5 separate regions of the Homo sapiens genome follow, and regions 2, 3, 4 and 5 are each linked to region 1. Evidence: fine-mapped expression QTL. A gene starts in region 1. Each other region holds a variant in brackets. All regions are shown on one strand. Distances are between the middles of the regions.

Region 1 (6,373 bases):
ACCTCCTACATCCAACAGGGAGAGGTGAAAAGAACCATTTTGAAATATGTCAAAATATTCTGTTCTTTTTAACAAGGCCTGCCCTCAAGAGAAACTACCAGAGCCTAACCTATTACAGTTTTAGCAGAGCCTAACCAAGCTGATAGATGGGAAATATCCAACCCCAGCCCCCTCTAGACATCCTGTCCCACCCAAGAAGGGGGATAAAAACTAAGAAGCACTTGTGAAGTTTCCAGCCTAGGGACACAAGCTCACTAAGACTGAAATCTAATCATAGGTCTATAGAATGTTTCCCCTCCTCCCACATCTTAACACCGCATCACTGAAGCCCATTTACTCCAGTGCCTTTCACCCAGTGCATCATGTCCAGCTTTCAACTAAAAATTACAAGGCACACTACAGAGCAAAAAACACAGTTTGAAGAGGCAAAGCAATCATCAGAACTAGACTCACATACGGCAGAGATGTTGGAATTATCAGACCAGGAACTTCAAATAACTGTGATTAATATACTAAGGGTTGTAAAGGTAAACGTAGACAACTTGAAAGAACAGACGGTTAATGTAAGCAGAAATGAAAATTTTAAGGAAGAATAAGAATTGCTAGAGATATAAAATTCTATAACAGAAATGAAGCATGCCTTTGATGGATTCATTAATAGACTGGACATGGTTGAGAAAAGAATCTCTGAGTTTGAGGATATGTCAATGGAAACTTCCAAAATTGAAAAATAAAGAGAAAAAGGACTTAAAAAAAAGAAACAATATCCAAGAACTGTGAAACAACTACAAAAGTATAACATATGTGTAACAGGAATACCAGGAGAAGAATTAGAGAAAGGAACAGAAGAAATATTTGAAGCAATAGTGACTGAAAATTTCCCCAAATTAATGTCAGTCACCAACAATGTTAGACCAACTCTCTAAAATCTCTTCCAGAAGATAGAAGCAGGGGGAATACTTCCTAGCAGCATTGCCCTAATACCAAAACCAGACAAAAACATTACTAGCAAAGAAAACTATAAACCAATATATCTCTTGAACAAAGATGTAAAAATCCTCAACAAAATATTAGCTAGTAGAATCCAGCAATGCATAAAAAGAATTGTACAGCATAACCAAGATTTATCCCAGGTATGCAAGGCTGGTCCAATATTTGAAAATTCATTCATGTAATCTACCATACCAATAGACTAAAGAAGAAAAATCACATGACCACATCAATAGATGCAGAAAATGCATTTGACAAAATCCAGCACATTTTCATCATAAAAACTTTCAGCAAACTAGGGACAGAGGGGGAACTTTCTCACTTGCTAAAGAACATCTACAAAAACCCTAAGGTAACAATATACTTAATGATGAGGAGCTTACCTATAGAGGAACAAAAATAAAGAATGACATCCAACTTCTCAGAAACCACGTAGACAAGAAGAGAGGTGGAGTAAAAGTGTTCAGAGAAAAAAACTACCAACCTATAATTCTGTACCTTGCAAAATTAGCCTTTAAAAGTAAAAGTCTGTTTCTTCTACTTTTGGTCACCACTGTCCCCTAGCATCAGCCCAGAGGAACAATGCAAAGAGAAAGAGAAGGAAAATGAGGAAAACCGTCAGATAGTTCCATATTTACAGATGAAGAAACTAAAGAGGATCTGAATAATTTGCTCAAGTTCACACAGCAAGTAAATGCTGGAGCTAGGTTTTGAACCCAGGGATTTTGAACTCCAAAGTTTGTGTTCTTAATCTCGTACCATTGGGATGAAATTGTACAGTGAAAGACAAGCGATGATATAGATGATTGCCTAAGTATTCCAAATCCATCCTGACAAAAAAAAAATCATTCTAGTTCATCACTGCTCACTATATAATTAAATACAATGAAAAATAAAACAGGCTTTATTTACTTCTGTATAAATCAACTTACTACAATTTTTCCTTCCAAATAATGGAACAAGTATTCACTTGAATTTCAAAACTATCGTTTTCAAATGATACTTTAAAAGTATCGTTTTCAAACGATATTTTAAAAAGTATCGTTTTTAAATGATACTTTTAGTGATACTTCACTGCCTGGTAGTCACTAGAGCCTGATCACAAAAAGATCTCATTAAGTTCGTAGAAACTGGAGAGAAATAGTCTTCCAATGTAGAAAATTAGAAATTTAGGGGAAAATATTCTTCCTACATAGAAATTTATTCTGCAATACATCAACTATCCAGCTCTTAATGATGTTAATATTTCTTCATCACTACCTGTCTCCCAACATCAGTAAGCTTTTGATAAAACTGGGGAGGAATTCCCCACTCCAAATTCGTCTTTCCCCACAGATTCCAAAACTCTTACTCTGGTTGTTCAGGGTTGTCCTTCTAGGTATGGAAATATGACATTCCTTTTCTGCAACAGGATGATTTATCTGACAAGAATAGCCTCCATCTACAAGTTACTTTGCATTTTTCAAAGTACTTCTACAAGTTCATTTGCTTCTCATACTATTCTGCCTGTTTCATAGGAGGGCCTTACAGGTTAGGTGTAAACACTTGTAACGAACTTGGCACTATTTGACTTACAGCCAGTGCTCAATTAACGTTAACCATCATTACAACTATTGTCATTCCTATATTGTGAGGAAACTATGCCCCTTAAAGATTAGGGTAATTTATCTAATATCTATGACAGAGTTGGTACCCCAAACTAGGTTGATTTCTACAGCAGTTCAACTTCCTATTAGGGTTTGTATCAATAAAACTGTGGGACCCGCCAGGGCTGGAATCCCACTGCTACCTGAGCATCCAGTTGGTGACCAGGCTCCCCGAATTAATAAAAGTATTTGTTGTTGTTTTTATAGCAGTTGTCCAGGAAGTATCTCCTTTCGAACTCAAGTCACTTGGGCAATTGGCTTTACAAAGCAAATTGGCTCCGTTTAAGGATTCTTGACTCCTGAAATCCGCAAGGAAGTGGGTTCTTTTAGAGCCAGCGCCAAGAGCTTCAAAAAATCCTTCTAAGGTGAACCCCTCCGGACCCGGATAGCGAGATGGGGCTCAGCCTTGCGCCTCGGGGGTCGTAACAGACGGCAAGGTGGAGGTGGCTTCCCGGCCCCGCAGCCGGACCTCGGCACCCCGAGCCCGTTCACCGGGGCCGGGTCCTGGCGGGCCGCGGAGTGAGGCCGGGCGGCGCAGCGCAGGCGGTGCCCGGGCGCAGGGCCAGTCCCGCCGCCGCCGCCGCCGCCGCCGCCGCCGCCGCCGCGAGCCCGGACCTGCCCGCCCGACCTGGCGGCGCAGTCTCGCGGGATCGCTCAGCTCTCGCTCCCCGTGCGGCTCTCGAGGCAGCTCCAGTCCCGGACGCAACCCCGGAGCCGTCTCAGGTCCCTGGGGGGAACGGTGGGTTAGACGGGGACGGGAAGGGACAGCGGCCTTCGACCGCCCCCCGAGGTGAGGCTTCCACGGCTGGGACTGGGCAGGGGCCGGGCGGGTGCCGGGGGAAGCGGGGAGGGCCTCGAGGGGCGAGGGGCCGCGGCTGGGATGAGGCGCGCCGGGAGCCGCAGGTGCTGGGGAGGCAACGGCGGGACGGCCCGCACCTGAGTTTCCTCGGAAGCGGGAACCGGCTCTGAAAGGCGATGCCGGGGCCCCGCGGCGCCGCGCAGGCCAGGAACGCTGCTGTCTGGCTCTAGGCCTGGGGCAGGTTCCCGGGTGTGGGGCGCTGGCGGACCGGGCATCAGTGTGTGTTGGGGCGCGGGTAATTCGTAATCCGGGGCCTACAGCCTTCCTCCCGCAAGGGGACTGCCTTCGCCCTTCCCCCGGGACAGATTTGCGCACTTTCCTTTCGACGGCAGCACTACACCCTCCTAGCCAGTGAAAACTGCAATGTTGCTCCTCCACTGGAGGAATCCTAAAAGTCTCCCTCTAGTTGGCCTTACGAAAATCGAGAAAACTACATACCCAGAAGACTGCCACAAAAACTGACTCTTCAGAGTCTTTTACAAGTTTAAGAACTCTTTGGGTCTTAAGGAATTTCCCAGGGCCTTAGTTTTCTTGTACTTAATAAGCTTTCCAACAGGGGCCCTTAGATTGTATGCTTATATTAATCCTTTATAATTTACTCCGAATCACCAGCTTTCCTTTTTTCCTCCATCTTACTCTTGCCATTCCCTCTTTTTAACCCTGTCTTCCATACAGCACCAACCTCCTAGCATCGGTTTCCTAGAGGTGCAGCTTCCTTAGCAAATGATATATTCCATGCTAAGGCAGGTGGAAGAGTATCTCGTTAGGACAGAATTTTCCGTTGTTTTTCCAGTGTTTGTTACCTGGGGTGAAAATCTTAACTCTGCACTTTGACTCCACATTTGAGTTTATGACAAATGTTGCTGATACACCCTCCTTTTGTTTTTACAGTAATTGACCCAGGACTCATTTTCAGGAAAGCCTGAAAATGAGTAAAATAGTGAAATGAGGAATTTGAACATTTTATCTTTGGATGGGGATCTTCTGAGGATGCAAAGAGTGATTCATCCAAGCCATGTGGTAAAATCAGGAATTTGAAGAAAATGGAAATGTTTACATTTTTGTTGACGTGTATTTTTCTACCCCTCCTAAGAGGGCACAGTCTCTTCACCTGTGAACCAATTACTGTTCCCAGATGTATGAAAATGGCCTACAACATGACGTTTTTCCCTAATCTGATGGGTCATTATGACCAGAGTATTGCCGCGGTGGAAATGGAGGTGAGTAGTGCTTCATACGTTTATTGAATAGTAGTTTATGCTCTGTTCTAGAATAAACTAGTAAAAATAAGTCTATTTTTAAACAGAGCCGATTTCTTCAAGTTGTGTACAAGTTGTGTTTTGAAAAGTCCTTTTGAAAATTAAATCCCTCTACTGACTTATGTTTTGTGTACCTTTGCGGCCCTGTTTAGTAGATTCGTTTGAATAGGGTTCATTTTATATAATGAAGTATGGTTACACATGATTTCTAAATACCTTGTACCTAGAAAATATTTTGCTTTCCTGAATCAAGTATGATAGTTCTTCTAGAAATGCGAATTCTGAATATTTTTCTACTTCACTGAACATGTAATATTTATTGCCTGGACTAAAACTGAAGAAATTTACAAGTTTTTATAAGTAGTTGTAATATTCACTTGGTACAGTTTTTCTGAAATAAATAAATTATCAGAATATTTTGTTGCTGTAGACTGTATTTTAAGGCTATCACAAAGTCACTAAAAAGTGACTTTGTTTTCTAAGCATAGCACTTATATGTTCTTTATAAGATACTTGTTAAAAGAAACCACTTGGGAGGAGTACAGTGACACTAAAGATTGCCTTAGGTGCCTTAGTTACCTGTCTCTGGTTTAGAGATATGCAAATTACTAGGGAGTGTGAGAAGAAAGCTACCTGTACAGACAGGAACCTGCCTTCCCATACAGATTTGTTAGGTTGTTAAGTCTCCTGAAGGAAACTAGACACATGCATTGTTTTTGTAGTTTTTCTCCAGAAAAACAGAATAGTAAAGGCTTTTTTCCCTCAGATTGTTGCTAAGAGAGGAAATCCCTACAAATTTAATATATATACTATTTTTAAAATTGATTAGATTTGATTTTGCAGCTTTGAAAGTTTTCTATTGTTGTTCAGTTGAATAGTTGTCTGACTGCCTCATTGTGGACTCATGTCTGGAATAGGAAAGCTTATAAATACTAAGTAGATGTTATTTAAAAGGATAGTACAGATTATATTATTGTTATCTTTCAGTGGTTTTTTTCAAACTGATGCTAGATGTCCTTTTGAACTGAACAAATGATGCACTGAGACTTTCATGAATCAGAACCATTTTGATGGTTCAATCTGATTCAATATGAAGTATATAGTGAGAACACTGTGAAGCAATAATTACATCATTCATTCACTTTTTTGCTGATGATAATATGTTTTGTAGTGTTCATGTTTTAATAGTGTTCCTAAATTTTTTAAATCTAATTTCCTTTGTATGTGGTAACTACATACATTTTAAGGTTTTTGTTTTTTCTTTTAGAGATGGGGTCTTACTATGTTGCCCAGGCTGGTCTCAAACTCCTAGGCTCAAGTGATCCGTCCTGCCTCAGCATCCCAAAGTGCTAGGATTACAGGCGCGAGCTACTGCACCTGGCTGACCATTTTAAGTTTGAATGCTAACAGTGACCTTATAAATTCATATCACCTAGACTCAAGAGAGATGCATCCCTGCTATTAAATGCCTGTAATTATAAGATGGTAGCAACTAGCTTTGTTCTGCACGTCTTTTTAAAACCAAATTTTTTTTACTTTCAAAAAAATTACTTTTTAATTTACCTAGCTTCTTTCCCAAGTAGTTTTGTGCCTGGATATTATCAAGAAGGCTTTTTGTT
Region 2 (6,373 bases), 62 kb before region 1:
TTGAAATTTAAAACCTCTGTATGATAAACATTCACATAAAGATGAATAATAGTCTATTAGAAGATATCTACAGCCCATGTATCAAAGAGTTAGTATAGTGATATACATTAAGAAAAATGAGAATTTCATAAGCAAAAGACAAATGACCAAGAGAAAATAACATGAACAGGCAGGAGGAAAGTTGAATGGCCAAGAAAAATACAAAAAATCCTCAGTGTCATCAGTAATTAGGCAAATTTGGGTTAAAAAAAGAGATGCCACTTTTTAACCTATCTGATTAGCAAAGTTTTTAAAATGTGATAATATCAGTGTTGGGAAGGGTGTGGGAAAGAAGTAATGTCAGACACTGCTGGTTGAAATAGAATTAGTGATACTATGTTGGATGGTGTAGGGCAGACAAAGCTTTACCTCTACCTTCATAGGAACCCCAGCAGGGCCTGAGAATTAGATTGACACAAAACAGACTAGCAGGAGAGGAACATACAGATTTACTTAATTTTAAGTTTTATGTGAGTTGAGAGACTTTATAAAGAAACGACGGCCCAAAGAAGTTGCAAAATCTCAATGCTTTCCTACTATGTTGGACAAAGTGAGGCAATTGTGAAAAAGTAATTAAAATATACAGGAAAGCTAAAGAAAGATAAGAGTTGTTTTAACAAAATTCGGTTGTTTACAGAGAATTGTCTCTGTCTCTGGTGATAAAGATATTTCTTTCCTCCTGGTACAGAGAGGGCATCTTTTACATGGGAGTTTTATATGCTTTCAGGAAAAAAAGGGAAGTCAGAAAGTTCTGCTTGAAGAACTGAGCACGTTGGCTCATACCTGTAATCCCAGTACTTTGGGAGGCTGAGGCAGGAGGATCACTTGATGCCAGGAATTTAAGACCAGCTTGGGCAACATAGCAAGACACCATCTCTACAAAAAAAAAAAAAAGAAAGAAAGAAAGAAAGAAAATTAGCCAGGCATGGTGGTATGCACCTGTAGTCCCAGCTACTTGAGAGGCTGAGGCAGGTGTATCACTTGAGCCCAGGAGATCAAGGCTGCAGTGAGCCAAGGTCGTGCCACTGCCCTCCAGCCTGGGTGACAGAGTGAGACTTTGTCTCAAAAAAAAAAAAAGTTCTGTTCGCACCCACTTTTTAAAAGTGCTTTTAGCTCAAAATAACCCTTATGCCAAAATGGCATATTCTGGAAAAGCATATTCTGCCACTCTTCAATGTCAACTTAGCCAACTTATTCAAATTTAAAATGTGTATATTCTTTGGCCAAACAATTCCATTTTTAAATATATACCTGTCAAGGACTGAACTGTGTCCCCGCCAAATTCAAATTCATATGTTGAAGTCCTAACCCCCAATACCTGAGAATGTGACTGACTGTATTTGTAAATAGTGTCTTTCAAGAGGTAAGTAAGGTAAAATAAGGTCATTTGGATGGGTCATAATTCAATATGACCAGTGTTCTTATAAGATTAGAAGATTAGGACAGGCACACACAGAGGGAAGACCATATGAAGACAAAAGAGAAAATGATCACCTACAAACCGAGGAGAGAGGCCTCAGAAGAAACCAACCTTGCCTCAGACTTCTAGCCTCTAGGACTATGAGAAAATAAATTTTTGTTTTTCAAGCCCACCGGCCTGCAATATTTTGTTATGGCAATCCTAGCAATCTAATACAATACCCTAGAAAAATATCTGCACGTTTTTATGAGGCAGATATTTGTGGGACAGGACTCAGACTTGTAGAACTTGATTCAAAGGAATCAGAATGGCAGAGGACAAAAGAGCACAGGACTACAGCAGACACCACTGGCTCTACCTTCCCTTCAACCCCTTTACTGCACCCATGCTGACTTCTAACTGAGGCACCCGCTGTCTGTGGCCTGAAGTCTTTATCTCACCACTCCCATGGCAGGAGTTGCCAGGGCATTGGCGCTATTGATGCTTATTCATTCCTATCCTCATCCCAGCACCTGTCAATCAGTCAATGACTGATGAGAGCTCCTTCAACCTTGGGTGGGGTAATGCTGAGATACGTATTTTACGCAAGCTCCTAGAGTTTTCCCAGGTGTATTAAGTTCCAGTTACCCAGCAGGTAGCTGGTTTAATAATGCATTCCTTTACTGGATGCTTCCTTGATCAATCTCCAGGGTAGAGTCATTGTTGTAGTTGCAGGCTTCTATATAAACAGCATCATCTCTCTTGTCTTTCTTTTTTATTATCATAGTCAAACATCATCTTTTCCACAACTTGGTTTCCACCAGTAGATAGTCCTCCACTTCCTCCCTAGCATGAGATATACATCCCACTGCCACTGGTCTATAAATGTTCTGTTTATGTATATTGTACCACAATAAAAGATGTTAAGACCAATAAATAAGTAAATAAGTGTTCTGTTTTGCTACAGAGGGAATCTCTGATTTATCCCAGATATAAGAAGTTACTTGGAAAGGAGCCCCAAGAGATATCTTAACAGAAGTCACAAACTACATGCTTTCAGGGGACAGGCAGGTGATATAAAGGGATGCTGTAGGGCATTGTGAGTAGTAGGAGCTGGGATGAGAAGGAAAATGCATACACACTTAAGAGCACCACACAGTGAGCCTGTCACTCTCCCTGATGAAGAAAGATATTTGCAATAGCTGACTCAACTAAAAATTGTTAAGATGGCACTTCAGGAAATGTGGTGCCCAGTACAGATTTACTGACTAATTGAGATTTCATAATCAGTAGTTGCTTGGGATGCCAGAAACGTCTTCCACTGTCAGTGAGCCCTCTGCTCCATAGCTCCACTTCATCACTTTGCATTTCCTTCTCAGGCCTCTACCATCTCACTTCTGATTCCACTACTCCAACTGAAACTACACTCTAGGGTCACGAATACTCTAATTGCCAAAGTCAATGACACCATCTAAGTCCTCATCCTGCTGGACCTCTCTGCATCTGTTAAAATAAATTTTCATTTTTAAAGCCCACTGTTCTGTGGTATTTTCTTAGGGCAGCCCTAGGATGGGTTTCCTCAAAGTTTTGTCAACTTTTGCATTTGGAAATGCTACCCTGCTTTTGGTCACCCCCGTCTTTCTGATTCTACTCTTTGTCAGTCTCCTTTGCTGATTCCTCTTCCTCTGCCTGTCCCTTAATTTCTGGTATTCCTCAAGGTTCCCTTTTCAACCTTTCCTCTTCAGACTCTACCCAGTTTTCCTTAACAAGTTCATCTGATCCCATGGCCTCAACAATTTAGATGCTATTTCCACTCTATCCCAAGCTCCTATGCCATATTTCCAAATGACCATTGCACACCTCCCCTTGGATGGCCTGTGTGGCAGGGATTTTGTACCTATTCCCTAAAGCCCATTCTCTTCCTTCCTAGGAACCCAGCTTGGCTATATTTCCCAAGTTCCCTTGCAGTGAGCTCCCAAATTATTTCAGCAATATTTGATTCTTCTTAAATTACTTCAAAATGTCTCACAATTTGAATTGTTATGGTCTCTCATGGGAGACCATAAAAACCAGCAGCA[GA/G]AAAAATTTATGCTTAATTCTCTTGGGAATGTGCATGTGATGTGATTAGACAATGGCTCACCCAGGTTTTTGTTTTGTTTTGTTTTGTTTTGTTTTTTTAGCTCAGCATAGAGCTAAGGCTAGGAGTACTTAAGCCAGAGGGAGCTTTGCAATTTCAGTTTCTTAGATGGGTGTTCTCCAGGTAGAGCTCCACCTTAAAAGGAAAAGGGGTAAATGATAGTGCCCTTTCTGAGCCAAATAGACTTTTTCATAACATTGTCATGTGCTTGGAAGATAGCTGAAAATTTGTTTGCCTTTTAAATTTGATTCCATTATCCAGAGACTCCCTCCCTCTGTTCTAATAAATACATCAGCTATGGGATGGCCTGTGAAGCAAGGTATGGCAGCCAGCCTTCACAGGCTTCAGGTACAGAAGACCAATCCTAACTGGATGTTTCATGGCTCTGTGCCTTGGGGCAAATTGTGGAGTCTCTCAGGGCTTACCTCCATCAATGAAAATAATACCATATTTTTGAGGGTGTATTGTGAAGATAAAGGGAGATAACAAATGTGGATAACATGGTGTCTGCCACCTGATCATAATTATCGCCATGCGTCGATACTATACTAGATGCTTCGCACACTATCTCATCAATCATACAGTCCTGCCAGGTAAGGCTTCTCAGCTCCCACTTTACAGATGAGGAAATGGAGACTTAAAGGCCCAAGGCCGACCAGGCATGGTGGCTCACGCCTGTAATCCCAGCACTTTGGGAGGCCCAGGAGGGCAGATCACCTGATGTCAGGAGTTCAAGACCAGCCTGGACAACATGGTGAAACCCCTGTCTTTACTAAAAATACAAAAATTAGCCAGGCGTGGTGGCACATGCCTGTAATCTCAGCTACTCGGGAGGCTGAGGCACAAGAATCGCTTGAACCCGGGAGTCGGAAGTTGTGGTGAGCTGAGATGGCGCAACTGCTCATCAGCCTGGGCAACAGAGTGAGACTCTGTCTTAAAAAATAAAAACAAACAAAACCAAAACAAACACAGCTAGTAAATTGCAGAGTTGGGATTTGAACCCATGTCTGCCTGTCTATGAAAACCCATGTTCTGTCTGTTAAACCATGAGTAAGTGCTCCATAAATATTCATTTCCTTTTTGTCACTGTGCAAGTAACTTCACAGCCCTTTGTATAGCATCACATCTTGGCACTTCCAAGTTGTCAGTGCCTCTCTAGGATCAATTATAGCACCCTAGACACAATTATGCAAAATTTCAGCTTTGTTTCTTTTTTTTCTTAACAGTAATAAAGCAGTAGCAGTCTTTCCAGTTGTGCCACAATATTAAAATTCATTTGAAGATAATACTAATAAATTTGTTTTTTTTTCTAAAACATATTACAAATCTAAGCATTATCTAGGTACCATAGTAATCACTTTTTCCTCTTCCTTCTTGAATAGGAAAGTGAAGGCCTGAGCTAGCTGAGTCCCCAAAGAGAAAGGAAATGCAAATATAGGAGGTATACAATGTCTTGTACTCATTGGCCTCTTAACTATTGCTTGTGGAAAGCAACAAATATAATTATTTTCTAGTTTTAAAAAATAACAGGTGGAGGCCAGGTACAGTGGCTCACACCTGTAATCCCAGCACTTTGGGAAGCCGAGGTGGATGGATCACCTGAGGTCAGGAGTTCAAGACCAGCCTGACCAATATGATGAAACCCTGTCTCTATTAAAAATACAAAAATTAGCCAGGCATGGTGGTGTGCGCCTGTAGTCCCAGCTACTCAGGAGGCTGAGACAGGAGAATTGCTTGAACCTGGGAGGCAGAGGTTGCAGTGAGCCGAGATCGCATCACTGCACTCCAGCCTGGGCAAGAGAGTGAGACTCCACCTCAAAAAAAAAATAAAATTAAAAAATAACAGGTGGAAAGAATCATGATTGTATAGCACACTGACTGGCAATATGGCTGCACATTGGAATCACCTGAGGAGGTTTAAAAACTATTGCTGCCTGGGTCCCACCTCCTAGAGATTCTGGCTTAACTGGTCTGGGGTACAACCTAGAATCAAGATGTTTAAAAATTCCCCAGATGGTCCTGATGTACAGCCAGGTTTGAGAATCACTGGCTCAGCAGAGCACAGATGGAATTCATGTCTCAAAAATTCCATAAGGCAGCCTTAAGTCAGACTTCCTGGGTTGAATGCCAGCTACACCACCTACTAGGTTTGTAACCTTGGCAAGTCATTTCAGTTCCCCATGTTCCCTTTTGCCCATTTAGAAAATGAGGCTCAAAATATCTCATGATATCGGGAGGATTTAGTAAGGATATATTGATAAAGCACTTAGCACAGTCTCTAGCATAGGAAGGTAAACACAAGGTTATTATTGTTGAACTGTGATTCAGCCCTGAAATTTTCAGGACATGAGCAAGCCTGGCATAGAAAATTCAGCTCTCAAGGGTAAATGTACCAGAAGGCTGGCCCTTTATTTAAGTACTTTGTTCTCATCCACCACAAAATGAACCTGTTTTCAAGATAAGCACTTCTTGTCTAACACAAAATGGACCTTAGACATCCCTGGGGTGAGGAAAGTAATATCTTCAAGAAACCATCCTAAGGAGCATGTACTTGTTGGTTCTGGGAAGAAGCACTGACTCCAGATAATGTAGAGGAAGAAATCTCTTTAGTTGGTTTGGGCTCTAGGAACTTTATGATGTCCCTTTAAACTTGACATCTTTCATTTGCAGACTCTTTGGCGGGTAGTTTTCCCCAAACTGGTAATCGGCAAGTGAGACATGACTTTGGATGTAAAGATGTGATTTGTTAGGAGTTGTAGGGCAGTGAATTTGGGGCTTTCACATCTTTCCTTTGTACA
Region 3 (6,373 bases), 44 kb before region 1:
TCCATTCTGCACCTCCTGGTCCCCTATGAAGTCCCAAAGGATAAATTTCTTTGAGAATCTGGTGCTCAGGGCAAAATATGTACCTCCTGAGGAAGTTATTTGCTTCCTTTTTAAAAATAAAAGTATGTGACTTACAGAGCTTCTCCTTTTGTTTTGGCTTTCTGGAGGCTGAGACAAATGGGAAGCAATTATCAGCTCAGGTTCCTGGGTTTTACAGATTTGTTGTTGTTGTTTTTTTTAATCTGATCTTGATTTTTCCTCTTGATCTTCCCTGTCTTAATTCTGTATTTGAGTTTTATTTGGCATTATTGTATATGTTCTTGTGAATGACATTATGTTTGTGGAATAGAGTGGAGTACAAATTCGTTAAATAAAAATCAAGACTGACCTGAGGCTGGGCGCAGTGGCTCACGCCTGTAATCCCAGCACTTTGGAGGCTGATGCAGGTGGACCACAAGCTCAGGAGTTCGAGACCAGCCTGGCCAATATGGTGAAATCTCATCTCTACTAAAAATACAAAAATTAGCTGGGTGTGGTGGTGGGCACCTGTAGTCCCAGCTACTCCGGAGGCTGAGGCAGGAGAATCGCTTGAATGCAGGAGGCGGAGGTTGCAGTGAGCCAAGATCGTGCCACTGCACTCCAGCCTGGGTGACAGAGTGAGCTTCTGTCTCAAAAAAAAAAAGACTGACCTGAAAAATACAAGTCATAGGGCCTGTTTGTCAACATGATTGTACTGATAGTATCTGATCGAAGAATCGGTGTAGTTTTTAATAATTGATACTATAAAACTTGAAATTACGGCTTATGAATATCTAATGAGAGGAAGGAATAGATTTTCAAATGGGGATATATTCTTGGAGATAGAACATAAATGCCTTTGCTGAATTTTTATTGAAATTAATTATACTTCTCTAGATTGCCAAGCTAAATCAATATCTATACCATCAAATTCAGTAACCAAATTAATCACAACCTTGCAAAAATAAAATAAAATTAAGAAAGACATGCCCTGTGATACATACCTATTTCAGGAAACCTAGTTAACCATGGTTGAATAGCCATCACTTCCTTAAGAAGGAATACAATTTGCTATAATTGTCAACACAGAGGAGCAGTAAGTTATTTGTGAAGTTGGTGACTTGTGCCATTTATTGAAGAGTCAACCCAACAAGCCCCAGATCAATAAACAAATGTCAACTAAGGGACATACTGTGAAATACAGTAGGCAATACAAAGAAATATGATCTCGCGGCTGCTATGAGAGAACACTCAAGTATTAAGAAGGGGCTAGGAGAAGCAGCTCAGAATGTTATTTGCAGCTTTTGTTTTAAAACGAACTCCTATAGCACTGCTTTCAGACATCATCAATTGTATTGATAATCTTTCATTTTTCTATATGGCCTCTCTTAGATCTTTAAAACCCTAAAGTCCAGATTTTAATCCGAGACATGGTGACTGCTTAGATAAATTTCATGTGTGAAGATAGAACATTTTAAAATATTAGCATTTGTTTCTTTCTCTCTACTTTTTCAGGCAGCAAAAAGATGTCCTCTTGGTGGCCTTCAGAAAAGGGTTCTTGCAATATAAACGCAAAGAAACAAAAGGGATCTGATTTTATCTTTTGAGTTTCTATGTCGATCTTTGGACCCATGGCTGAAAAAACAGCTTGAGAGAAAAGAGTTTTCAAGAACAAAAGCCAAATCCCTCTTAGAGTTGGTTAGCCTGCATAAAACAGAAAATGGAAAAGCTTGAATACAGTTTATTTCCCTTTCTTGTAGAAGAAGTCTGGTAGATAGGCTAGAGCAGGTGTGGTTATCAGAGATTCAGACTCTGTCTATATTTCAGTTACCTCCTAGTACTAGCTTGCAGCCTCAAGATTACCTGCTGGTACAAGATGGTTGCTAGAGCTCCAACCATTATAACTACATCTGAGGCAATAGGAACTAGGGAAAGGCAAAGAGAAGACCTTCCTGCTGAGTCAGATCACTTACGCAGCCGTCTCAGAAGTACCAGGCAACTCTTACGCTTATATTTCATTTGTCTGATTGTAGTTACATGACCATGCTGGGCTTCAAGGGAGCCTGGAAAACATAATTTTTTTAGCAGGGCACACAGCTGATTCAAAAAAAGAAACCAGCACTTGTTACTGAAGCAGAAAGGGAGAATAGATGTAGAGTTGCAAATAACAGTCCTTGCCACATCTCTAAAGAACCCAAGGGGGTAAAGTTGATACCTAAGTGTAAGTTGAGAATAATTCTTGATTATGCAGGTGCAAATTTTCTAACCCTAGATGAGATAAACATTCTTTGGACTGGAGGATGAGCAAAATAACAGAAAGGACATGAAAAGAAAATAGATGTTGTGCATCCCCACGCGGGTCCCTGTGCCCCAAGAGTCATCATCAGATCCTCCAGAGGGGGCACCAGAAACCTCAGATAGACTGGCAGATCCAAACCAGAGAAGTCCTGTGCCTTGCACCTGATAGAGGCCTGGTAGATAACAAGCTTCATGGCATTTCTCCTGACCTGCCTGGTGAGATATCCATACTGGAAATGGCAGCCTGGCATGTCTAGGCAGCAAAGCCTGCAAGAACTCCATGAGATCCCGTGTGATCCTACAGTAGTTTGGAAGAGCACCCAAAATGTCCCAAGGCCTTCACACTCCCTTATGAGGGGCTCAAAAGTAGCTGAGAGGGGCCAGCAGGTTTGAAGACTAAGTCAGAGATGAGAAGGATATGGGGTAACTTTCCTGGACCAACTACCAGAAACCAGATGGGGAACCCAGATGTTCTAGAAATTTCCTTTAGGGATGATGTACAACTCCGCAGATGCCAGCAGGGACAGATGCCTCCCTCTCCCTCAACACGTGGCTCTGTGAAAACTCCTCAGAATTTAGACATGATCTAGGGAACAGAGGGTGGTAGAAACCCTGAACTGACTGGGGTTGGGGGGAAGGCAGATTTGAGAGTGAAAATTCTGATTTGACTATGTTTTCTTTAAAATGGCTGGGGTTAAATTATCCTACCAGGCAGAATGGAGATTTAAAATTAAAATTCAGTTATAGAAAAAATTATTTTATAAAACTGAGTGTATGACTTGTGAAAATTCATCTGCAAAACATGCTTTCTCAGTTTGTCAATTCTCACTACTAAAAGCCACTTTTGAAAGCTCAGAATTTTGGCACATTCTTCATTGATGTATGAAAAGTTGTAACAAACAAGTATTTTGCTGTTTCGTCATTGCTTCAATAATATTGTACCTCATACTCATGACTCACAGATACCCTTTTTAGCCCTTGCCAACAAGCCAGGCATTGTTGTATTTGTACAACAGATACAAATAAAATTTGTATTTCCCAACACTTTAGCTGCATCTAAGTGCCCAATTTGTCCTAGCTTGTTCAGGACTTTACTGGTTTTAGCAATATAGTCCAGTACCCCAGAAATCCTTCCAACAATCCCAGACAAACCAGGATGTTTGGTTACCCTCTCTGCATCAGAATCACCTGGAGGACTTGTTAAAGCACAGATTCCTGGGCTGCACCCCTAGAGCTTTTAATTCAATAGGAGTGGGGATGGGGGCTCAAGATCTTTTATTTGTAACAAGCTCCCAGGCTACAAATCTAGGGACCTTGTTGCACTGACCAAAGACACAGGTCACGGTTTTTTTCCCCAACATTAACATAATAAAGCAATTGCGTCA[A/G]TCCATAACCAACATAACAATGACAAATCAATGATGGATTCTTAGCAAAAACTTTGACCAAGGTCTCAAGTTTTTCTCCTTTTCTTTTATAGCAGTTCCCTGAACATGGCAGCTCTGTGGAGCTGTACCAGAGTTCATTCGTGGGAGGTAAGCTTAGAACTTGCCCCTTAGCCCTTCCAGAGGTTCATTAAGCATCTAATTTTTCATATTAAATCCCTTTCTGCTAAAACCAGCAAGAGTGTTCTGTTATCTGTAACTAATCTTGATGCACACATCATGGGGACACTGGGTCACAGGGTTTGATAAGTGGTAGAAGAAGGGGGAAAGAAGTTTGTGCACATTTCAGAGACAAGAGGAAAAGGAAAAGCAGAGATTTCCTGTGAGTGCAAAGGCCTGTCTAGGCAAAGATGCCCCTGCCCACCTTGGGCCATTTACAAGGAAAACACTTACAAACCCAGCAGTAGAAAACCATATCAATACATTCCCAAACAATTACTACAGTCAGCAGAGATGACATCATTCTCCTTCCCATCAGAACAATAAGCCTGGCTCTAACTCTATAAACAGTAAAAGCAAAATGTGTTTCTCTAACAGATGGAAATGAATAGGTTTGAAGTTGATAGTGATCTTTCTGTGGTCTAAAAGGCCTCACCCAATACAAATATCTTACCCTAGACAATAACAAATGTAAACACAACCAAACACAGTGAACCCCCTTGAGCCGAGTGAAGGCTGCCAGAACCAGAGACCCAGGTCCTGGCAAACTCAGACATTTAAGGACAATCTAGAAGAAAGGAGTCCCTAAATTTTCACACATCTCCAAAGAAATCAACTTCAGAGCTATTCCTTTTGAATTTTTATTTAAGCCTTAAAAGTTAATTCACCATGTAAGGTAGAGAGGCAAAAAGAGATGACAGATATACTCTCCACTACCAGGTCACTAATCTGCTCAATCAAGCATGGCAGGGAAGCAAGTAAACCATGAAATCTCAGTGTAGACGACCCTTGATTTTAACTCAAATATGCCGATTAAATCCTTGACATTGGATTATGCATATGTAAGGTACCAGTGTTAGATGTTAAAGCTAATATTTCTCCTGATGAAGCAGCACCTTTGCTAGGACTTAGTGAGTTGGTAAGCGTGCACTGACAACCCTGTCCTACAGCAGTGGCATCCACACACTCAGGGAAGTACCACACATCGCTATAGTCTCATTCTCTTGTAGTGTTACAGGCAACTTACACCATCTCTGATTCACTTAAAAAATTCTCAGCTGACTTGCAAAATAATTGCAACAGACTCTCTTTGTGTAAACTTGATTACTATTTTGTAAGGTCCCGTTTCTATAAGGCCAAGGAATCTGTGAAATCCGTATTTTTTTCCTTCTTTTAAAACTTGAATTTTTATCCCAATAGATACTTTTTACCCATAGGACTTAATACAAAGTATAAAATTGTCATATGTTATGGTTTTTACAGTTTTATTTCTGCTTTTCTTTCCTGCTGCACTTGCAATGAACTTACTGTAATAATTGTATCCATTCATTAGAAGGCACTTTATATCCAACAAATCTTCAAGTCACAGGGTTTGTAAGAGGAAAAGAGTGGTTAAGAATATAATGACTAGTTTCTACTCTTGAATATTTCCAATCTTTCCTCAACACAGCAGCAGGCCCTTTGTGAGATTTAAACCCAAACACGGCTCTCTCTGCTGAGAATCCCTCAATGGTTTCCCATTGCGTTCAGAATAAACACAAGCCCCGTTACAAGGCCTACAATAACAGGCCGCTCATCTAGGGTGTTATGTGAGTTAATAAATGTAAAATTCTTAGAAGTGTGCCTGGCACACAGCAAGTGCTCAGTGAATTCTAGCTGTCCTTCTCCTTCCTTCTCGCCCTTTCCCTCCTCCTCCATGCTTACCTGGCAATGCTTCCCATGACCTCTCCCTTGCCTCACTCTGCTGTCAGCCACCTTCTCCCTCCTCCAGTATGCTGCATTCACACTGGTCATCCTCCAGATTCTTGAACACATCAAGCTTTTGCCTATTTCAGAATCCTTCCCCAAGCGGTTCCTTCCCTGTCATCCAGGTGGCCACTTCTCATCTTTTAGGCCTAAATGGCTCCTCCTCAGAAGAACTTCCTTTTCTGCCTAATCTAAATTGGTCCCCCCTATTATTTTCCCACAGACTAAGTTCTTTTCTTTTAGTGTCCTAATTACAACTTGTAATTGATACTTGTTTGTTTTAAATGTTCAGTGTCATTCTTTCCCATCAGCCCTTAAACTCTCTCTGTTAGGAAAGAGGACAGATGTTTTGTTTGCTAGTTATTTAACACTGTGTTTGCCATCTAGAGGAAACTCAATTAGTATGGAAGGAGAAAAAGAAAAATTATTTAAAAGTAAATTCAATATTTATTAAATGTTTACCATGTGGCTAGGCATTCTACTAAATACTTAGAATGTATTAGCTCCTCTAATCTTTCAAATATCTATGAGCTATGTTATTATCTCTTTTTCACATTTGTAAAAAGTGGAACTCAAAGAATTCATGTAAGTCATACCGGTAATAAGTGTCAGAGCTGAGATTTGAACTGAGGTCTTTGTAGCTCCAAATCATTTGCTTTTCCTCTCATACCAAGTTGCTTCCAGTAACAAGGGAGTGGAAGTATGTGAAA
Region 4 (6,373 bases), 120 kb before region 1:
CGACATGAAGAATCCTTGTGGTGATGGAGCTGTTCTGTATCTTGGTTGCAGTGGTGGATAAGTAAAAGTGCACATGTAATAAAATCATATAGGATTAAGTACAAATATACAAATGAGTACAAATTAAACCTGGGGAAATCTAAATAGGACGGGTGGATTGTACCAATGTCAGTACCCTGGATAGGATCTTGTACTACAATTCTGTAAGATGTTACCATTGGGGGAAATTAGAAAAGAGCACACAGATCACTCTGTACGATTTCTTACAACAATCTATAGATGATTTTGAAATAAAAAGTTTAATTTAGGCTGGGCACAGTGACTCACGCCTGTAATCCCAGCACTTTGGGAGGCTGAGGTGGGCGGATCACAAGGTCAGAAGTTCAAGACCAGCCTGGCCAACATGGTGAAACCCTGTCTCTACTAAAAATACAAAAATTAGCTGGGTATGGTGGCGTGTGCCTGTAATCCCAGCTACTCAGGAGGCTGAGGCAAGAGAATTGCTTGAACTGGGACCCAGGAGGCAGAGGTTGCAGTGAGCCAAGATTGCACCACTGCACTCCAGCCTGGGATACAGAGTGAGACTCTGTCTCAAAAAAAAAAAAAAAGTTAATTTAAAAACAAAATAAATAAATGGCTCAGAACAAAAGGGAATATGAGAAACTTTTAAAAATAGTTGGTGGAAAGAAGGAAAGCTGAGATAAGATTGCTAAATTAAATACAAAACTAGTTACATCCTAAAGGACAAAACAAAAACAAAAAAATTCCACAAAACCCAAACCCATAGTCTTTGGGGTTCTCTTCTCTATCAGACAGAAAAGAAACTCATCATGCATGATCAGTTCTCAGAATTGTAAACTGTTTGGCCCTAATCAAATGTGCAAACCAAGTTGCACGCTCTAGGCCAGGATCTCTCAATGCCTCCAGCACTATGGAAATTTTGGGCCCAAATAATTCTTTGTTGGGGGTGCTGTCGTGGGCACTGTAGGATGTTTAGTAGCATGTGTGGCCTCTACAGCTGAAACATCTCCACATGTCCACTGGGGGTAAAGTCATGCTGGGTAGGAGCCCCAGAACACCTTTAGGTGAGCTTGTTGGGAAGTGCTCCTAGCATAACGTTAATCATCTTTTCTGCATTATCCCAATCTCTGGATAATTGTTCTTCACAAATAAAACTACCATTTGGAGGGTCACTGTGCTGAATAGAAGCACAATGTGCTCTATGCGGAGTCACAGACTTTTAGCAGAACAGGATCCTTAGAGATTTTCTAGGCCTGCTTCACCCTCCTTGTTTCCCAGCTGAGGAATACCAGTGGAGATGGCTCGGCTAAAGTCACATAGCTAGTTCATGTGGGTGTGTCCAATTCAATCCTGTCTTCTTCCAAATGGATGTGAAGCAGTCACTATGAAGTCTTTAAAACTTTGTGGGTACCAATTATGTGCCAGGCCCTGCGCTGGGCTCACAGCCAGGTGATGGCTAACACGAGGTCCTGCTCTTGAGGCACTGATGGTCTTCCTGGGGAGATAAGGATGTAGGCAAATAATTACTGTGGGAGGGATATTCAGTAGTGCAGGCTGAGGATGAAGGCTGTGATGGCCTTAGAGTCTCAGGGATAAGCCCTAAGGGAGTCTGATGAGGACCAGAGTTCCCAGCTCCATGATCAAAGAGAGGTGGTTGTACTCATTGCAGAGGGAAGTTGTTGTTCCTGGCGCAGAGGGAATGTGAGGCCCAAAAGTGAATCTGCCCACAGTGCAGGCCTGGGCCAGGTTCTGGGATTACTGGGAGGCCCAGAAGACAATGATAAGCAGGGGGAGTGCAGAAATGGGGAGCTGTGAAGAACAAGTGGAAGAAAGGAGCAGATTTATAGCCAAGAGATCAGGCCAAAGATAGGACAGGGTGGGCGAGTGGGAGGAATGCAATTCTGAGATGGAGAAATTAAGACAACTAGAGTTCCAGGAAGAAGAGAACAACTGGGTAAAATCACAGCAGTGTTGAGAGCATGGTGGTGCCCGTGGTTTACTGTTAGTGGTCACTATGGTTTCCAGAAATCTAACTGCATGAATGGCACCCAGGAACTGAATCTGGGACTTCCTGGCTGGCTGCACCCTGCAAGGCTCACGTGCTTGGCCTCAGAGAGGAAAGGGACTGGAACTAGGACTCAGAACAAAAATTTGGCAGAGCATGAATCCAGGTCTGGCTGGCACAGGAGCTGCTTCCAAGATATTTTACATCCAAAGCACCAACCTCACATGTTGTGGCAGTTACAGGAAGGAGGCTTCCAACTTTAGCATCCTTCAAGCCCTTGCCTCGTTCCTCGTGACTCACCAGGGAGAGAGAAACTGGAAAACAGGGACCAGAAGGATGTAGGGAGAGGATTAGACAAAATAAGGGCCAGAGCAAGATGCAAAGTGGAGATGCTGCCCGCCAGTTCTTTGGGATTCAGCAGGCAAGCCTTCCTTGGGGAAACCCTTTCAGGCAAGGAGGAGAACAAGTTGAGATGTAAAGCAATGATTGTGTGAAAATAGATAGGA[T/A]TGAAAATGAACCAAGACAAAATTGTATCTGCCCAACTTCTTGAATTCAGGTGACTCTGGATGACCAAATATCTATGTAATGGCTTTTCTTTTGTTCCTTCCTTTCTGGATAATTGGATTAGAAAACTCTAGTAAACCTCAGTTATAGCATCCCTGAAAACACAGCTCAAAAGGGGAAAAGTTGAAGAGAGCTGGCTTTCCTTTCTCTGGGATATAAGATGTAGAGTTTAGGTTTCGTGATGAGGTTTTGAGGCCTTTCAGAATATTAAAAGGAAGAGAGAGAATTCTCAGGAAAGGGTGGAGGTGCTGTAGGAACCGACTATCCCACAACGGTTCCTTCCTGCCACTCCCCAGAGGTGAGTGGTTGTGCTCTGGAGGTGGAAGGGGAGGGAATTAGCAATTTTGGAGTGTTCATCTTTGCAAAAGCTCCCTAGGTGAGTCAGGCTGTGAGCAGGGTGTTGTAGGAATATCTTTTTTGTTGTTGTTTTTGAGACAGAGTCTCGCTCTGTCGCCCAGGCTGGAGTGCAGTGGCGCAATCTCAGCTCACTGCAAGCTCCACCTCCCAGGTTCACACCATTCTCCTGCCTCGCCTCCTGAGTAGCTGGGACTACAGTCTCCCACCACCACGCCTGGCTAATTTTTTGTATTTTTAGTAGAGATGGGGGTTTCACCATGTTAGCCAGGATGGTCTCGATCTCCTGACCTCGTGATCTGCCCGCCTTGGCCTCCCAAAGTGCTGGGATTACAGGTGTGAGCCACCTCGCCCGGCCAGGAATATCTTTAGGTAACCCCATGCCGCTAATAAAATTCTCCATGTGCTGTAGCTAAATAGTTTCTGTCTTAGTGTACATTGATTTCCTCGGGACCTAGGGCCACAGCTACAGGGGATTTGGACCTAATAGCCATAACAAAATAAATGAGAATTTGGTTAATAGTAGCTGATATTAAAACTAATATTTATTAGCAGTTTCTATGGGCCAAACATGCTGCATACTGGTGGTGGCACCCACTTAGGTAGCAGGTGAAAAGTTGGCTTCTTTTAACCTGGGATTTTGCAACCAAAGTTAAGAACTCCAAATCCATGTTATAGAACATACCTTATGCTGTTCACTGAACATAAGAAATGTATTCATATATATAACCATACTTTATATACTGGATAGATTTTGCAGTGTCGTTCTGGGGCTGACTCCGGATCCCTCTCCATGAGGATTTTGGGTGAAGCACCTAGCCGGGCATGAGACATGAAATTTCCTTTCTGCTTCATCCAGAGCCTTTTCTTCTTTTATCTTCCTCATTCTGCCTCCTTTGCTGTTTCATATCCCACCCTGGTTTGCCACAGAATTAATTAGCCTCCAAGGAACCCCCATTTCTTCATCTGCAGGTGTGCAACATCTCAACTCTACATTTTCTGAGGCTCCAGCCAGCTCCCTTCCCAGTATCCTACTGTTTAGATCTGCACAAGGCTAGGGCTTTGGGCTTTTGAACATTTACTCCCCTTTGATGTGAACTCTGCAAAGTGCTTGATTCAGCTGCTCTTTTGCCCAAATGGCTTTTATTGCTTTCTGCCTCATTCTGTAGTGTTGAGAAGAGGGACAGAAAGACGTAACATGTGGTTATATACGGAACACCTGGGCTTTTAAGAGAACAAATTTTCCATCTGACAATCAATGATCTCTAGTAAGACTTAAATGTAGATTTAACATGAAGTAAGTAACAAGACTCACACTGTCTTCATGACTTCTGGAATCCACAGGTAGGAGCAGATAGGAAGAGGTTTCCATCCTCACAGTGTTTGACTGTGAAGTCCTGATAGTAGAGACCCTATGTTATTGATTATTATTGTGTTGTCCACTTGGTCCATACATCTCCATCAAGAAGGCGCTAACTGACCAGGAATTCCTGGGGTCTGCATGAATCCCAAGATACTTATCCGTGAGAGAACTTTCACGGATAAGCTTTTCCAGCTGCAAGTGACAGAATGACCTACCAGGCTGCTAAGTAGCAAGGAATTTGTTATCTCCATAGCAAGAAACTCAGAGGCAGGGAGGCTCCAGGGTGAGCTAACTCCATAGCACAGGGAGGCCAGGCTTCCAGGACTTCTTCCCCATGGGGACAGGTCTTCATTCACTCTCAGGCAACACCATTCAGAGGCAGGAAAGGAAGTTTCCTCCATTATCTTTTTCCCAGAAGCCCCACAGAAGATGACCTTGACATATCATGGGACAGAATTCAATCACATTCTCACCATAGAACACATCACTGGAAAATGAGAGGATTTAACCATTATTATCTCAAACCAGTCATGTTTTATTTCCTGGGGCTGGGGGAAGTGCTGCTGGGGAGCTGGGAGAGCCAGGATTGCCATTTCAGCCTTTGTCATAGGAAATGAGGTCTGCCAAGGAGAGTGAAAATGGCTGTTGGGTGGACACCAGCAAGATGGCCAAGAGTCCTTTGTCAGAATCCCAAAGATGATGGGAAGTGGAGAAAAACATGGAATGTCTTATTTCCCTTTTGAGTCCTAACCACTTCCACTGTTCTTATTTTCCTGGTTTTGCCCATTAGCCCATTACCCTCTTGCCTTTGCACTTGCCTGGAGAGACAACAGTTTAGGGGCTCTGCTGGTTCAAGAAGGACTGTGCAGGTAGCATGGCCACACACCATGTACAGGTAAGAGAGGGTATGGGGGGACCAGATCTGGGGAGGTGGGTATGGGACAACTCTGCAAAACCAGGTAATCTATAGCTTGGGAGAGCCTCTCAGGCCCAGGTGTCATGAAGCATATTTTCCGGCAGTGGGTGGACACTCAGGCTTCAGTATGACTGCCGTGGAATTGCTAGCAGTGGTCAGTTCTTTTCCAACAAAGTTGCAGTGAGTAGCTATCCAGCCCCACCACCTCTGCTCCATACCTGCTCATGAACCTAGGCATATAATTATTGAAGCTGGTTGCAGGCATAGAAGTTATGGTTGTGTCACTGGAATACCTAAGTTTACAGAGTACCATTAGGTATTAACTGAATTCCTGGGCATGGTCCCTGAAAACAGAATGGGAAACTCCCATGATGTGAAGTGTGTTCGTTTCCATTGCTACTGCAACAAGCTACCACAACTTTAGTGGCTTGAACAATATAAATGTATTATCTCCCAGCTCCATAGGTTAGAAGCCTGATATGTTGTCATCAGAGCTGCATGCCCTACTGGAGGCTCCTTGGGAGAATCCATTTCCTTTCCTTTTCCAGCTTCTAGAGGCAGCCTGCATGCCTTTGTTCATGGCCCTTCCTTCATTTTCAAAACTAGCAACATTGCATCTCTCTGTGCCTTTAAAAACAGTCATATCTCCTTTGAGTCTCTCTCTTCTGGTTCCCTCTTTTACCTTTAAGGACTTTGGTGATTACATTGGGCCCACCAGGATATTTCAGGATAATCTATTTTAAGACCAGCTGATTATCAACCTTAATTCCACTTACAACCTGAATTCCCTTTTGCTGTGGAACCTCATATATTCACAGGTTCTGGTGCTTAGGAGTGGACATCTTTGGGACCGAGGGTTATTCTGCCTTCCTACCATGTCACCAGAGTTGTGCTAATACACAGAGAGCTTCAGGGGATGAGATCTGCCATTCATTGAGCACCTTCTGTGTGGCAGACAGTGTTAGGTACTTTATAAATGATTTCACTGCATCTCCCAAAATTCAATCCCTAATTTACAAGTGAGACAATGCTGGCTCTGAGAGGCTTAGTGACTTGCCCAAAGTCACATAGCTGGTGACGACAGAACTCAGTCCATCTGTCCTCCAGTCCATGCTGCCTTGTGTTACCCTTTGCTCTCTCCCAGATAGTT
Region 5 (6,373 bases), 43 kb after region 1:
GGGTCAGTATTGTAAGTGATGAACAAAGCAGACTTTAGCCTGATCTGTAATGTTTACATTTTTATAAGGAGACTCTATTAATATATCATATGTCATCATTAAGAATCTGCTTATTTATTTATTTACTTATTTATTTTGAAACAGAGTCTTGCTTTGTCACCTAGGCTGGAGTGCAGTGGCGCAACATTTTCTCAGTGCAACATCCACCTCCTGGGTTCAACTGATTCTCCTGCCTCAGCCTCCTGAGTAGCTGTGATTACAGGTGCCTGCCACCACACCCAGCTAATTTTTGTATTTTTAATAGAGACAGGTGTTCACCATGTTGGCCAGGCTGGTCTTGAATTCCTGACGTCAAGTGATCCACCTGCCTTGGCCTCTCAAAATGCTGGGATTACAGGCATGAGCCACCACACACAGCCAAGAATCTGCTTTTTTAAAAAGAAAATCCACTAAGCACAAATCTAGCTAATTCGTGGATTCAGCCACATCTACCTGAGTCTGAGCCTGAAGCAGCCATTATTTCTGGGGATGTGGGCCACACACCTGCAGGCCAGGAAGGGGCAGCCCACACCGCTGAGGTCGGGAAAAGCCACCGGTGCATCCAGTTCAAACTCCCCTTGGCTCCTCAATCCTGCGCTTCTCCTTTCTCTGGAACCATATTCTCTTTAGTTGGCAATCACCACATGTTTATTGGGAACCTCTGTGCCTGCTTCTTTCTCTTCAGTCCCTTCTCCAGATTTGACTCCCACCCCCACAAATAAAGCCCAGACCTGCTGATTTGTTCCCGCACAGGGAAGACAGAGGAGCCTCCCAGGGTGAGACATCAGGGACACAGGTGAAGGAGAGGAAGCTGAGGTAGGCTGCGTTCAGTGGAACACCCACCAGGGCCGATTCCTCCTGTCCACACCCTAGTGCACACACCACCAGTACCTCAAGTGCCCCCAGCAGTGGGCAACACATCACCACAATTTACTTCTATATGCCTCAACCTCAAGTTGAGAAACTGCTCAAAAGTGAGATCTGAGGTTAGGGAGAATCTAAGGCATTCGTGGCTTTCTGCAGAAGATAAACCCCCGTTTTTCTCTGGAAACTCCAGCAATATATTCACCCATGTCCCTTAGAGCCATGCAGTTGACCCAGGCCCTTGAGTTCTGACAGAGGCACAGGAGCCCATGGAGCTGAGAAAGTTGTCTGTTTATAGCTCGCTTTGTCCTAGTAGCCATGGCTAAGTGTTCATGGGGACCATCGAATTTTGATCAGCATTTCCCAAATTGATGGATAGTTCCTACATAGGCTGAACTGTGAAGGGCCTAAGTTTCTTGTCTGTACTTGCCTACTGCCTAAGCTGCTAAGAGATTAGGTTTTGATTTTAGAATTTAACCTAGTCCTTTCCCTCTAGACCAGATGAGTCAATTTTTCCTCTTAATATGTTTGCCAATAGCAAAAATAACTTTCCTAACCATCTGACACTTAAACCAAAGATTCATTATTTTTAACCAAGAGGACAAAATGTTCCAATAAGAATACTTAATACATCAGTGAAAGGTAAGCCCCAGCTGTGGCCCAGGAGACCACTAGAGTCTCCCAAAGATATTCTTCTATCACTGCTAGATCTGCCATTCAACCTCTAGAATATAGCCAAGAAGAAAAAGTATATGATATTTTGGCAAGATAACCTGCACACTATAGACCCTGAACTCAGTGACTCTCAACAGCATTTTTCTGTCTTTAAAATTTTTGTTTTGTTTTGTTTTGAGACAAAGTCTTGCTCTGTCACCCTGGCTGGAGTGCAGTGATGTGATCTCGTCTACTGCAACTTCTGCCTCCCAGGTTCAAGTGATTCTCCTGCCTCAGCCTCCCAAGTAGCTGGGACTACAGGCACGTGCCACTATGCCCAGCTAATTTTTGTATTTTTAGTAGAGACACGGTTTCACCATGTTGGTTGGCCAGGATGATCCACCCACCTCAGCCTCCCAAAGTGCCGGGATTACAGACATGATCCACTACACCCGGCCAAAAATTTTTTTAATTTTTTAATTGTTTAATTGACACATAATAATTGTACCTATTTGTGGGATACACAACAACGTTTTGATATATGTAATGTATAGTGATTACATCAAGGTTTGGGTTGATTTTATGTTTTTCAGGACTAGAGTCTGGTATTCAGACTGGGATGCATGTTACAGTTCCTCCTCCTCATTTTCTGGGAGTGGGAGGAGGTGATAAAGTCCACTGTCATCTGTACTTCAAGCTCTAGACCAGGTCCTCACGGCACGGAACTTGAGATATACCAAGGAGTTAAGATTATGTCTCATACATAGAACAGAGACCCATGGGAATAATAGAACCTTATGATTTTTAAAATATTTTACTAAGACCCTTCTTCCATATTTCTCTGGATTGGGACACAGGACCATTTACTGGTTATAAAGCCCTGTTTACTAAGGCAAACAAAAAGGTGTAATTGGCACCCTAGGTTTTAAAATTTATAAATATCAAGTGCATGTCTGTGTGTGTGTGTATCTGTGTATCTGTGTGTGTGTGTGTGTGTGTGAAGCTTTTGGAACACCACTTAAGAATTCCTAAGAAAACCACACGTCAAGCCTCTATCACACACACTCAGGTAAATGGGTCTGTTCTGAAGACCAAATTTTGCCTTGGGTGATGTGTTCTAAGATCTAATCTTGGGAGGATCAGGAGGCCAGGAACACAAGCAAGCCCATTTGACTCTCACAATAAGCCACATTCTCCAGTGGCAGGTTTAACATCAACATACATTCTCAAAAATCAGGGGGAGGTATAACTAAATGAGCACTCACTCAGACAAACTACAGAGGTATTTGGTAAATCTATTTGTAAATAAAGTGAAAAAGAAGAGGCTCTGCTTTCTTCTTAGCCCTGTGTTGATAATTAGTTAGAGAAAAGATTGAAAGAGGTCGTATGCACAATCCTGTGTCAAAATAAGAATTCCTGTTACGCTGGAACAATACTCTGGCTTCTCACTTACATGAACTCTTACACAATAGTTGGTTCAGAAGCAATTCAACTCATCAAAAAATGAATAGCAATTTTAAAGTGGAACTGAGGACCTATACAATAAAGCTACAAGAAAAAGAAAAGAAGAGAAACAAGACAAACAAATGACACAGAATCCCTCCCAGAAAATATTGCTATAGGGTAGATAACATGTTTGACAAAACGTATCATTTTTACAAGTTTTAGAAATCAGTGAAACAATCAACACTGTAAAAGAAATACACAATATAAGAGCTTGGAGATGACATGGGGAAAAGATACAAGGAGGCAAAACATGAATTACTGCCAAAACTCTGGAAAGAAATAGAAAAGAATTGGAAGCAGCACAGAAAATACACATTTCCTATAACATGATAATGGACATAGAGAAGAGGAATGAAAATAGTAAAATAAATAAAAATGACTAAGAGTTAAATAAATTGAAAGAGAAAATGGTAGTTACAGAAGACAAAGAAAATTAATATTTATATAACTAGTGACCCCGAAGAAGATAACCAAAATAACAGAACATATAATATCTAACAAGAGGCCAAGCGTGGTGGCTCATGCCTGTAATCCAGCACTTTGGGAGGCCCAGGCAGGCAGATCACTTGAGGCCAGGAGTTTGAGACCACTCTAGCCAACATGGCAAAACTCCATCTCTACTAAAAACACAAAAATCAGCTGGGTGTGGTGGCGCATGCCTGTAGTCCTAGCTACTTGGG[AG/A]GCTGAGGCAGGAGAATCACTTGAACCTGGGAGGCGGAAGTTGCAGTGAGCTGAGATCGCACCACTGCACTCCTTGGAAAACTGTGGCAACCCAACAAAGACAGGCCCACCAAGACCTTAATCATTTAGGAATGACAGTTTGTGTCTTCACTTGGAAAAAAGCCTCCAACCAAATGAAAGGCTGGCGGATGAAGAGGGAAACATGGGGTGGGTGAGGGAAGAGGCAGCTATAGGATATCAGCTTAGGCCTCAGAATTTTCCCCCTTTCTGACACTACCTAGATGAAAGCATTGGTTTGTCGCTGATTTAAGTTTTATTTCATGAGCATAATCATTACCCTTCAGTAGTCATGGTGATATTTAAAGGATTTTGTTACTTTTATCCAAAAGAAAAATAAATATTTTAAAGTTTTTTGTTTTGTTTTGTTTTTTGAGTCTCACTCTGTTGCCCAGGCTGCAGTTCAGTGGCACAATCTCGGCTCACTGCAGCTTCCACCTCCCGGGTTCAAGCGATTGTCCTGCCTCAGACTCCTGAGGAGCTGAGATTACAGGCACAGGCCACCACGCCTGGCTAATTTTGTATTTTTAGTAGAGACAAGGTTTTGCCATGTTGGCCAGGATGGTCTTGAACTCCTGGCCTCAAGTGATCCCCCTGCCTCAGCCTCCCAAATGCTGGGATTACAGGCATGAGCCACCACACCCAGCTTAAAGTATTTTTATATCAAATACTTCTTGCTGTGCAGCTCCCAACACATTGGATCAATGAAGGGCATTCATTCCCTCAGGAGAACATCAGATACAGCCAAGAACACAGGGGTCAGGGGATGCGAGTGACTAAATGTGTCCTGGCCCCATACAGCCAGATTGGTTGCAAAGAGGAAAGGTGCCAGGGTGGGTGTGGGATTCCTGAGACCTAAACTGGATCCTGGCTTTCAGACTGGAAAGATCCCAAGGCATCAGACTCTCCAAAAAGAGAACTGCTTGGGCAGGAAGGAGCTCTAAGGGCTGAATGTGGGACGAGGCAGGGAGAGGACCAGAGGCGGCCACCTCTCCAGAGTGCCCCTTGACTCCCTGCATCATTGATGGACTCTAGAAACAGCCAAGTGATCCCAGAAATAATCACAAATTATGGTATCTGTCAGGCACCATCTCAGGGATAAGGATCTAATGGAAAACACTAAAGGTCCTTGCTCTCATAAAACTTACATTCCAGGAGGTATCAGGCAATAAGCAAGTTACTGAATAAACAAACAAGGTCAATTCAGATTGGGAAGGTATTAAATAATGGAATATTACTCAATGATATTAATTGAAGCATCATTTATAACAGAAGCTAAAGTGTCTACAAATATGCAACTGGTTATATAATTTATTCCATTCCATGGAATACTGTGAAAATACTAAATTAATTAAAAGACAAGGAAGAACTGTAAGTGTTCATAGGGAAAGATGTCCAGGATTCACTGTTAGTGAAAAAAGCAGGTTATAGCATAATATGTATATGATAATCCTATTTGGTTTATATTCTAATGCAGTTGTATATGTATAATGACTAGAAATATATGTACCAAACTACAGACAATGGTTATTTTAGAGGAGTGAGATTATGTTGGGGGTCAATAGCAGGGAAAACTTTTACTTTCTACATTATGCACTTCTACATTGTTTGATTTCAAAATAAGCATATACTATTCCCCACCTACCTCCAAAATAGGGGTGGAGGAAGACAGTGGTAGCTCGAAGTGGCAAGAAAGAACAGCCTGTTTTGCAAACTTCTATTATTTATTTAATTTGACGCTTCAGGTAAATTGAGGCATATTGCATTTCAAGCTATATATCAAGATATAAATGAAAATAAGCACCTTTATGAATTTCATTATCTTAGACACTGTTCTAGAAGTTTCCAAATTATTTCTTACCAGATAAACTTTTTTTTCAATTTTGTAAAAGATAAAATATGCTTGTTTCTGGAATACAACATGTAAAATTTCATTGATTCTATATATGATATTAATGTATAAAATGCAAAGTTGGTTTTTACCTTCTACTGTAACTTGGTTTAGAACTTAACTTTGATGAGTGTCCTGTGTCTCTGGATAGAGATCTTAGAAATATTTGATGTGTTTTAGTCCTATACAGAATTCTAAGTTAAATATTTCAAGATGGCTTTGGTCAGCCAAGCCTGACTGCTGGTATGCAGACATGAGCAAATCACTAAGAAAAATAATTAAAACCCTTACTTTGGATAGGCAACTTGGAAACCAGCATATCTGTTGAATGTATTAACAATGACTCATAACCACATGAGTTAAATATACTGAGGAATTAAGTGTTTAGCTCATAGTTCTGGGTGTCCTGAGGCCTGGGATTACTATAACTCCAACAGAAAATAGTGATTGGATTAGATACTGGACTCAACTCCTAACTTCAAGGCCAAGAGTTTGCTAATAATGTACCCTGTAGGACTTAGACAGGAGGGGAACCTCCCTGCCTCATTCTGCCTTCTGTTTTCCAGGACTCTGTCAGGCAAGAGGGGGAAAATATCTTTGCAGCAGGCTGTCGTGTGATTTGGATTATTGCTTCAGATGCGAAGTCCAAAAATCTCAGAACAAAAGGAGTTCTGGTGACAA

What was found. PIP is the estimated chance that this variant, and not a neighbour inherited with it, causes the effect. A credible set is the group of variants that fine-mapping cannot tell apart.
Region 2: its variant is the best candidate, but not a certain one, in a credible set for the expression of FZD6 in whole blood (INTERVAL, PIP 0.72).
Region 3: its variant is the best candidate, but not a certain one, in a credible set for the expression of FZD6 in whole blood (TOPMed, PIP 0.67).
Region 4: its variant is the best candidate, but not a certain one, in a credible set for the expression of FZD6 in whole blood (INTERVAL, PIP 0.59).
Region 5: its variant is the best candidate, but not a certain one, in a credible set for the expression of FZD6 in whole blood (TOPMed, PIP 0.58).

The regions. Positions count from the first base shown.
Region 1 is chr8:103,295,570-103,301,942 of GRCh38, forward strand. It overlaps FZD6 (frizzled class receptor 6), which reads left to right and starts at 3,329. Exons shown (of 7, transcript NM_003506.4): 1 at 3,329-3,426; 2 at 4,387-4,715. The coding sequence starts at 4,539. LOC105369147 (a long non-coding RNA gene) reads right to left here and starts at 3,249. Exons shown (of 2, transcript NR_148216.1): 1 at 2,780-3,249. RefSeq lists enhancers at 2,905-3,405, 3,406-3,906, 3,760-3,809 and silencers at 3,010-3,059, 3,070-3,239, 3,360-3,609, 3,472-3,766.
Region 2 is chr8:103,233,458-103,239,830 of GRCh38, forward strand. No RefSeq gene overlaps it. Among named protein-coding and RNA genes, the nearest start is that of FZD6, 62 kb to the right of the region's middle. The variant GA/G (reference allele first, on the strand shown) is at 3,517.
Region 3 is chr8:103,251,828-103,258,200 of GRCh38, forward strand. All of the region lies in intron 1 of LOC105369147 (a long non-coding RNA gene), which reads right to left. Among named protein-coding and RNA genes, the nearest start is that of FZD6, 44 kb to the right of the region's middle. The variant A/G (reference allele first, on the strand shown) is at 3,702.
Region 4 is chr8:103,178,270-103,184,642 of GRCh38, forward strand. All of the region lies in intron 1 of BAALC (BAALC binder of MAP3K1 and KLF4), which reads left to right. Among named protein-coding and RNA genes, the nearest start is that of BAALC-AS1, 9.3 kb to the left of the region's middle. The variant T/A (reference allele first, on the strand shown) is at 2,533.
Region 5 is chr8:103,338,947-103,345,319 of GRCh38, forward strand. No RefSeq gene overlaps it. Among named protein-coding and RNA genes, the nearest start is that of CTHRC1, 29 kb to the right of the region's middle. The variant AG/A (reference allele first, on the strand shown) is at 3,744.